2 linked regions of the Homo sapiens genome follow. The protein of the gene in region 1 interacts with the protein of each later gene in a biochemical or structural test. Each region holds a gene or a part of one and is shown on either strand. Other genes may lie near its edges.

Region 1 (3,756 bases):
GTATCTGTGCATGTATCCTTCTGTGTGTGTATGTTTCTTTGTGTGTCTTTCTTTGTCTATCTTTTCTGTGTGTCTGTGTGCTTTTCTACATGTATCTCTGTATCTGTGTGTTCTTGTGTGTGTTTTGTGTCTGTGTGTGATATGCATGTGTGTAGGCAAGGGGCCAGAAGACATGACTTTCTGAGATTTCTGCCAACCCAGGACAGGATTTGGAACCAGGATATTTTCCTCTTCTCTTTCCCTCACACTTTTTAGAAGCACACTACCGTGCCCTCACAACGACCCTGGAGAGTCACAAATAGAGAAAGAGGGAAGTTACTTAGGCTGGGGTTTGGGGGTTGCGGGTCGGGGGAGGAAGGTGGCTAAAGAGATGTATAGATGGGGTAGAAACTACATAAACCCACCTTTCCTTGGGATGAAATAACTTCCCAGGGCTCTTGCATCTAGACATCCTGCCATAGGGGACAGGGTGGGACGTGGAGGTGTGGAAACCACCTTCTAATTCATGATGGGCCATGGTGGACATATGGAGAAGGGATCTTCATGGGGAGGGACGCTGCCACTCCTTTTCTCTTTCTTCAAGTGACTAAGCTGAGCTGTTTCCTCCAATCCTTACAACTTCAGAGCATCAGGACTTCCCTCTTTCTGCCAAAGTGGGATATGGGGCATCAGGAATTTGAAGGGCAGTGAGGGCAGTGGCAGGATGAAGGGAGAGGTAGGGATGGGGGTTCTAGAATAAAGGTGGAGGAGACAGGTTGAGGACAAGACTGAAGAAGCAATTGAACTGGTGGGAGGGGGCCTTCAGAAGCTAAACTGGGTGAACTCTGGTGGGCTTTCCAGTCCTGGGACAGTGGATCTGTTAGGTTGATAAGGAAAATTTGTGTCCTGCTCTCATTTTATAGATGAGCAAACCAAAAAGAAACAGATGAGGCAAGAGAAGGAAGAGTGGAGCCAGGAAGATAAATGAGGGTTACCTGCTTCTCCCTCTCCACCCTCCTTCTCTCTGTGTCTGAGGACTATGCTCAGCTGAGACTGGGTTGGATGATACAAACATGGGACACTTGGCTGCCCCGTTACTGCCGCCTCAGACCCCTATGTGCACATGGGCGCATGGTGAAGGCGAGGGCTTATGCAGGAGTTTGTATGAATATCTGTCAGAGAGTGCAGATAGGAGCATGTGGGGCCAGTGATGGTACACAGGGGTACGTGGAACTGGTGGGAGCTCATCATGGCCTGTGAATACAAGTGTTGATGTGTAACTCTGCAAGGTGTCAGCAGGTGTGTGTGAGAATCTGGGAGCCCAGGTAAGGAGAGGTGATGGAGACTAGCGAGGGGTGATGGGAACAGGTGAAAGAGGTGTGGAGGGAGGCAGAGGGGAATGGCAGGGATGAGGAGCGACAGGATCAGAGGAGAGGGGTGGGTAGGATAGAGACCCGTGAGAGATAATGATGACAGGCAAGGAAGAGATAGGACCATGGGAGGGATCTCTGGGCACAGTTGAGGGGGTGAGGAAGTAGGTAAGAAGGCAGGTGGGAGGCATGGAGGGACTGAGGACAGGGAGGGAGGTTACGGAGACAGCCGAATGATTCGTCAGGGATGACAGGAGAGCCAGGGGTGAAGCCATGGGGACAGGGGACGGAGGTGAGTGGGGAGGAGCAAAGTGCCCGGAGGACGGGTTGGGGAGGGAGGTCTGTGTGCTGGGGACAGGGAGCGGCTCCAGGCCTCGGCGCGGCCCAGGCGGTGTAGGCCAGCGTCCCAGCCCAGCGGGCGGCGACAGCAGCGCGGAGGGGAGCCCAAGAAGGCTGCGCTGGGAGGCGAGCCAGGCGGAGCCCCCTGAGCCCACGAAGGAGCCCCCGCCCCGACCCCGGCCCGCCCCGCCCCGCCTCACCTGCTCTGTGCCCGCTGCGGCTGCGGCTGCGGCGGCGGCGGAGGCAGCAGCTCGGGGCGGCGCATCCCCCGGGGCCGGGGCGGGGCGGGGGCGGCTCAGTGCGGCGTTGGGTGACCCGCTCCCTCCGGCGGCGGCGGCCTTCCGACCCGGATCATCCCGGCCCGGCCCGGCCCCGATCCTCCTTGGGCGACGGCGGCGGCAGCGGCAGAGCGGGGAGCTGCCCACAATGCACCGCGCCGCCAGCATCAGCACCAGCCCTGACATCACCGCCCGCCGCCCGCTCTGACATCACGGCTCCTCCTCTGACATCACGTTCCGACGGCCCCGCTCCGCTCTCCTCCAGCCCTGGGACTCTCTGGCTGTCCCGCTCCAGCTCTCAGGTTCTCCTTACAGCTCTCTGCCACCCGCTTGACTCCATCTCCCAGCACAGCCCCATCACTCCTTACCTGTTCCCATAAAACTCACCTGTCTCCATCACCCTTTATCTTCCCCACTCCTAGCATGTCTAAAATTCCTCATCTGACCCATCAGTCTCGCCTGATTCCCCACTCCATCCTCTACATGTTTATATCGCCTTCCTCTCAACTCATCCCCCTCTCCTGTACCCATCCTCCCATACGTCCCCATCACCCACCACTTCTGGGACCATCCCACACTCGCACCCACCACCCGTCATGTGCAATTCTCACCTCACCACCTATATGCTTTATCTTTTGGCTCAATCTGTGTCTCTCTTTCTTTGGCCCTTTCTTTCATTTGTGGACAAACTCTGCCATTGGTTTTTACTGCTTACCAAATAAGATGGACACTCTTTACTGTAACATCAAAACATCTTCCCAACATGGACCCATTAGGCCATTACTCCCCTTCTGACATGTTGGGTTACTCAACAACTCAACATTCCAACATTCCTTGAACAACACATTCTGCATGCCGCCTGTCTCTTTCAGTTTCTTCCTTCTTTTTTTTTTTTTTTTTTTTTGAAACAGGGTCTCACTCTGCTGCCCAGGCTGGAGTGCAGTGGCACAGTCTCAGTTTATTGCAACCTCTGCTTCCTGGACTTAAGCGAGTCTCCAGCCTCAGCCTCCCAAATATTTGAGACTACAGGCATGAGCCACTATCCCCGGCTAATTTTTGTATTTTTTGTAGAGACGGGGTTTCACCATGTTCCCCACGCTGGTCTTGAATTCCTGAGCTCAAAGCCATCTGCCCACCTTGGCCTCCCAAATTTCTGGGATTACAGGCATGAGCCATTGTGCCCAGCCAGTTCTTTCCTTCCTTAATGCCTTCAACAAATGCATCAGAGCAACTTGAATAATAATAACAACAACAATGGGCCAAGTGCAATGGCTCATGCCTATAATCCCAACACTTTGGGGGACCAAGGCAGCAGGATCGCTTGAGCCCGGGAGTTCAAGACCGGCCTGGGCAACATAGTGAGACCTCATCTGTACAAAAAATTTAAAAATTAGTTGGGTGTGGTGGTGTGCACCTGCAGTCCCAGCTACTCGGGAGGCTGAGGGGGGAGGATTTCTTGAGCCCAGGAGGTCAACACTGCAGTGAGCCGTGATTATGCTACTGCATGCCAGCCTGGATGACAGAGCGAGACTCTGTCTCAATAATAACAACAACAACAACAACAATTGCAGCAGTTATTTACTTCTGCCAGATACTACTCTAACTTTACATATGTTAATTGCTTTAATCCTGATGACAACCCTATGAAGTAAGAGTACTATTGTTATCCCTTGTTTTATAGATGAGGAAACTAAGATACAGACAGGTTAAGTAATATGCATTGGGTTACACAGCTAGAAAGTGGCAGAGCTGGAATTCAGTCCCTGGCTCTGGAGTCCATGGTTCTAATC
Region 2 (3,656 bases), on another chromosome or scaffold:
GGGTCTAAAGATCCTGGTGATGGAATCAGTTGTACAGATAAATTGTTACACTGAGTAGGGATCAAGATAGGAAAAGTCGGCAACTACCCAGCTCCCCTGCACCAAACTGGGCAGAAGTGGATCCTCTGAAAATTGCACACACCCATGTTTAAATGTACACACAGAACTCTTGCCACAGGCAAGCGGAGATTTGTCATCTGCTGTCCCTGCCTCATCTTCTTCCTGAAATCCACTCCATGCCAGGAATAAACTGCATGCTCTCCACCAGCCCAAACTGACCTGCCTTCCCGCCAGCCATCCCGGGCAGGGTGACCTGGCTTAGTACATCGGGTTCAGAGATCTTTCCAGTTTACTCGTTGAATAAAAAGTGAGGGCTGATCGAGAAAGTAATGGCAGTCAGGGAAGGCGAAGGAGGTAAAGAAGAGATTTTACAAATGAAGTAATTCAACAGAGTGCTGACATTGGTAAACTGGCAAACAGATTTCAGGGTGGTTGGTTGAGAGTAGAGTAGAAAAGGATTAAATAAAGCAAACTTGTGGTGTACTGAATCTTAGGAATTCCATGTATCCAATAAGTATAGTCATTTATGAATTAATAAATTCGGCCTAAGAAGCCTTCTTATCGCTTAAATCAAGACTAAGTAACAATATATCAGTTTTAAAAAGTCATTATATCAGAAAATCATTTAAATGATACACATAGATTTCCAAGATTTTACTTTAACCGAAACTATATAAATGTGAATTTGTTCACCCATCTTTTGACACAGGGCTCAGGTCTTCTCTTGGTGTCTGGATCAGCCAGTTGAAATTTCTTGTCTGTTTTGCCTATGCCACATTAATAATGCACTGTCTGGGTCCTCCGATTTCAGTTTGGATTTTGGGTTTACATTGTGGAGTCATCTGAATGCAGAATCCTTCAGGGATTTTACTTTTTTTTTTTTTTTTCATGGTCTTTACCATCCCATTTGATAGTAAATATTACTCACCTTTATGAAGTCTTTCCAAAACATTCAACTAAATTTTCTTAAAATCATTGAATGATTTGAAGAGCTTATTCCTCAGCACTTTTACTCCATCAGCTTGCACCTTATTTTTTAATCTTTTTTTGAGACGGAGTCTCGCTCTATCGCCCAGGCTTAAGTGCAATGGCGCGATCTTGGCTCACTGCGACCTCCACCTCCTGGGTTCAAGCAATTCCGCCTCAGCCTCCGCCGTAGCCGGGACTACAGGTACACACCATAATGCTCGGCTGATTTTTGTATTTTTGTAGGGATGGGGTATCGCCATGTTGGCCAGGCTGGTCCCGAACTTCTGACCCAAGTGATCCACCCACCTCGGCCTCCCAAAGTGCTGGGATTACAGGTGTGAGCCACCGCGCCCGGCCAGCTTGCACCTTATTTAGGATATGTGATTATTATAGCAAGTCTGGTGTACATACAAGATTTTGAATGGGCACAGATGACCTTTAGTAAGTGCTTGGCTGTGATAAGAGGCAGTCCTGACTGCAGATCAGGCTGTGTGGACCCCAGCCTTGCATGTTTACAGACCTTCATGTCTTATTCTTACAGGGTATCAGAAGAACACCTACTGGGGAAACTTATAAATTAGTAAAAGGTGGGCATTCTCCCCGCCCATCTTCTGTCTGTCTGCCAGGACTAGCACAGCACTTTGAAGTCATTCACATAGAATCCCAACTTAAGAGGGTAAAATCCTCCTCAACAGACTGAAAATAAGTTTAAATTCCCTTTGCTATATTAACTCCCCTGAGGAAAGAGTCTTAGATCAATGTCCAACACTAAAAACAGTTTTAAATCAGCAAGTGAGAATTAAATCTGAAGCAATTGATAATAATGTTTCATTCATTCCTCTCCTTTGGCCCCGTCCACCCTACTGCTAAATCCAGGCATCAAAGAGAAGAGGGACATAATTATCTCTAGTCCCAGCTGCTGGTTTTCCTTCCAGCCTATGGCCCAGTTTTCTGTTTTACTGAGAAGGCTGGTGATGTTATCTTGGGATCTAAGTCTGCAGTTTCACCACAAAAAGTCCAGGGATGCACTTTCATGCTTGTGTCCTCCTCCCTGGGATAGCAAGGATATTAGAAGACCCCTGGCTCTGTAATTGCTTGTCATGTGCTCTACAGACGCCACAGAATGCCAAGAACGAAGTGCTGGGAAGGACAAATTCATGGAACCGTGGGACGGTGCTCCTCCCCCAGCGTAAAGGACAGCTCCTCCTCCTGAATTGGAGCCAGCGTTCTAAATCATGTGTCAACAGAGTTGTCCTGGATCGGATCCAGTTCTGCCATTGATTTGCAGGTCATTTCAGTGGTACCTGTTTCCAGTTGTTCTTAATTGAACAGTGGCACCAAACTATTGTCTTGCCTCATCCCCCTCCCATGGCCTGTCCCCCAAAAAGAGACTTCTTGGGTAATTAATCAGGGCAACATCAGGCAGTCTGGGCGCGGTGGCTCACGCCTGTAATCCCAGCACTTTGGGAGGCCGAGGCGGGCAGATCATGAGGTTAGGAGATTGAGACCATCCTGGCTTTGTGAAACCCCGTCTCTACTAAAAATACAAAAAATTAGCCGGGCGTGGTGGCGGGCGCCTGTAGTCCCAGCTACTCGAGAGGCTGAGGCAGGGGAATGGCGTGAACCCGGGAGGTGGAGGTTGCAGTGAGCCGAGATCGCACCACTGCACTCTAGCCTGGGCGACAGAGCTAGACTTCTTCTCAAAAAAAAAAAAAAAAAGGAATCTCTTTGGTTTTATATATATTTTTTTTATATATATAATATATATTAAAATATAATATATATATTTATATAATATAATATATAAATATATTATATATTATATATTTTATATATTATATATTATATATATTATATATTATATATTTATATATTTATATATTATATATATTTATATATTATATATTTATATATATTATATATTTATATATAATATATATTATATATTATATATTATATATTATATATTATATATTTATATATATTATATATTATATATATTATATATTATATATTTATATATTATATATTTATATATATTATATATTATATATTATATATTTATATATTATATATTTATATATTATATATATTTATATATATTATATATTATATATTATATATGTATATATTATATATGTTATATATTATATATATTTATATATATAATATATTGTATATATTATATATCTAATATATTATATATATTATATATATTATATATTATAATATATATTATATATTATATATTATATATATTTTTATATATATAATATGTATAATATATAATATATATAAAAACATATATAATATATATTATATATTATATATATATTATATATATTATATATATTAAATATATTTTATATATATTATATATATATACACATATATATATATAAATGAGGCCAGGCTCGGTGGCTCACACTTGTAATCCCAGCACTGTGGGAGGATCACTTGAAGCCAGGAGTCTGAGACTAGCCTGGGCAACAAAACAAGATCCTGTCTCTACAAAAGGAAACTGTAAAAATTAGCTGGGCATGATGGCATGTGTCTGTAGCCCTAGCTACTTGGGAGGCCGAAGCAGGAGGATCGCTTGAGCCCAGGAGTTCAAGGCTACAGTGAGC

The links. The genes of interacting proteins can lie anywhere in the genome.
Region 2: of the proteins of TTBK1 (region 1) and MAPT, one has a biochemical effect on the other in vitro, tested with the Homo sapiens proteins (one study listed by BioGRID).

Annotation. Positions count from the first base shown.
Region 1 is NC_000006.12:43,241,841-43,245,596, reverse strand, and holds the start of TTBK1 (tau-tubulin kinase 1), read right to left. Parts: upstream 2,117-3,756; 5' UTR 1,889-2,116; intron 1-1,888. UniProt on the Homo sapiens protein: Serine/threonine kinase which is able to phosphorylate TAU on serine, threonine and tyrosine residues. Induces aggregation of TAU.
Region 2 is NC_000017.11:45,900,984-45,904,639, forward strand, and holds part of MAPT (microtubule-associated protein tau), read left to right. Parts: intron 1-3,656. UniProt on the Homo sapiens protein: Promotes microtubule assembly and stability, and might be involved in the establishment and maintenance of neuronal polarity.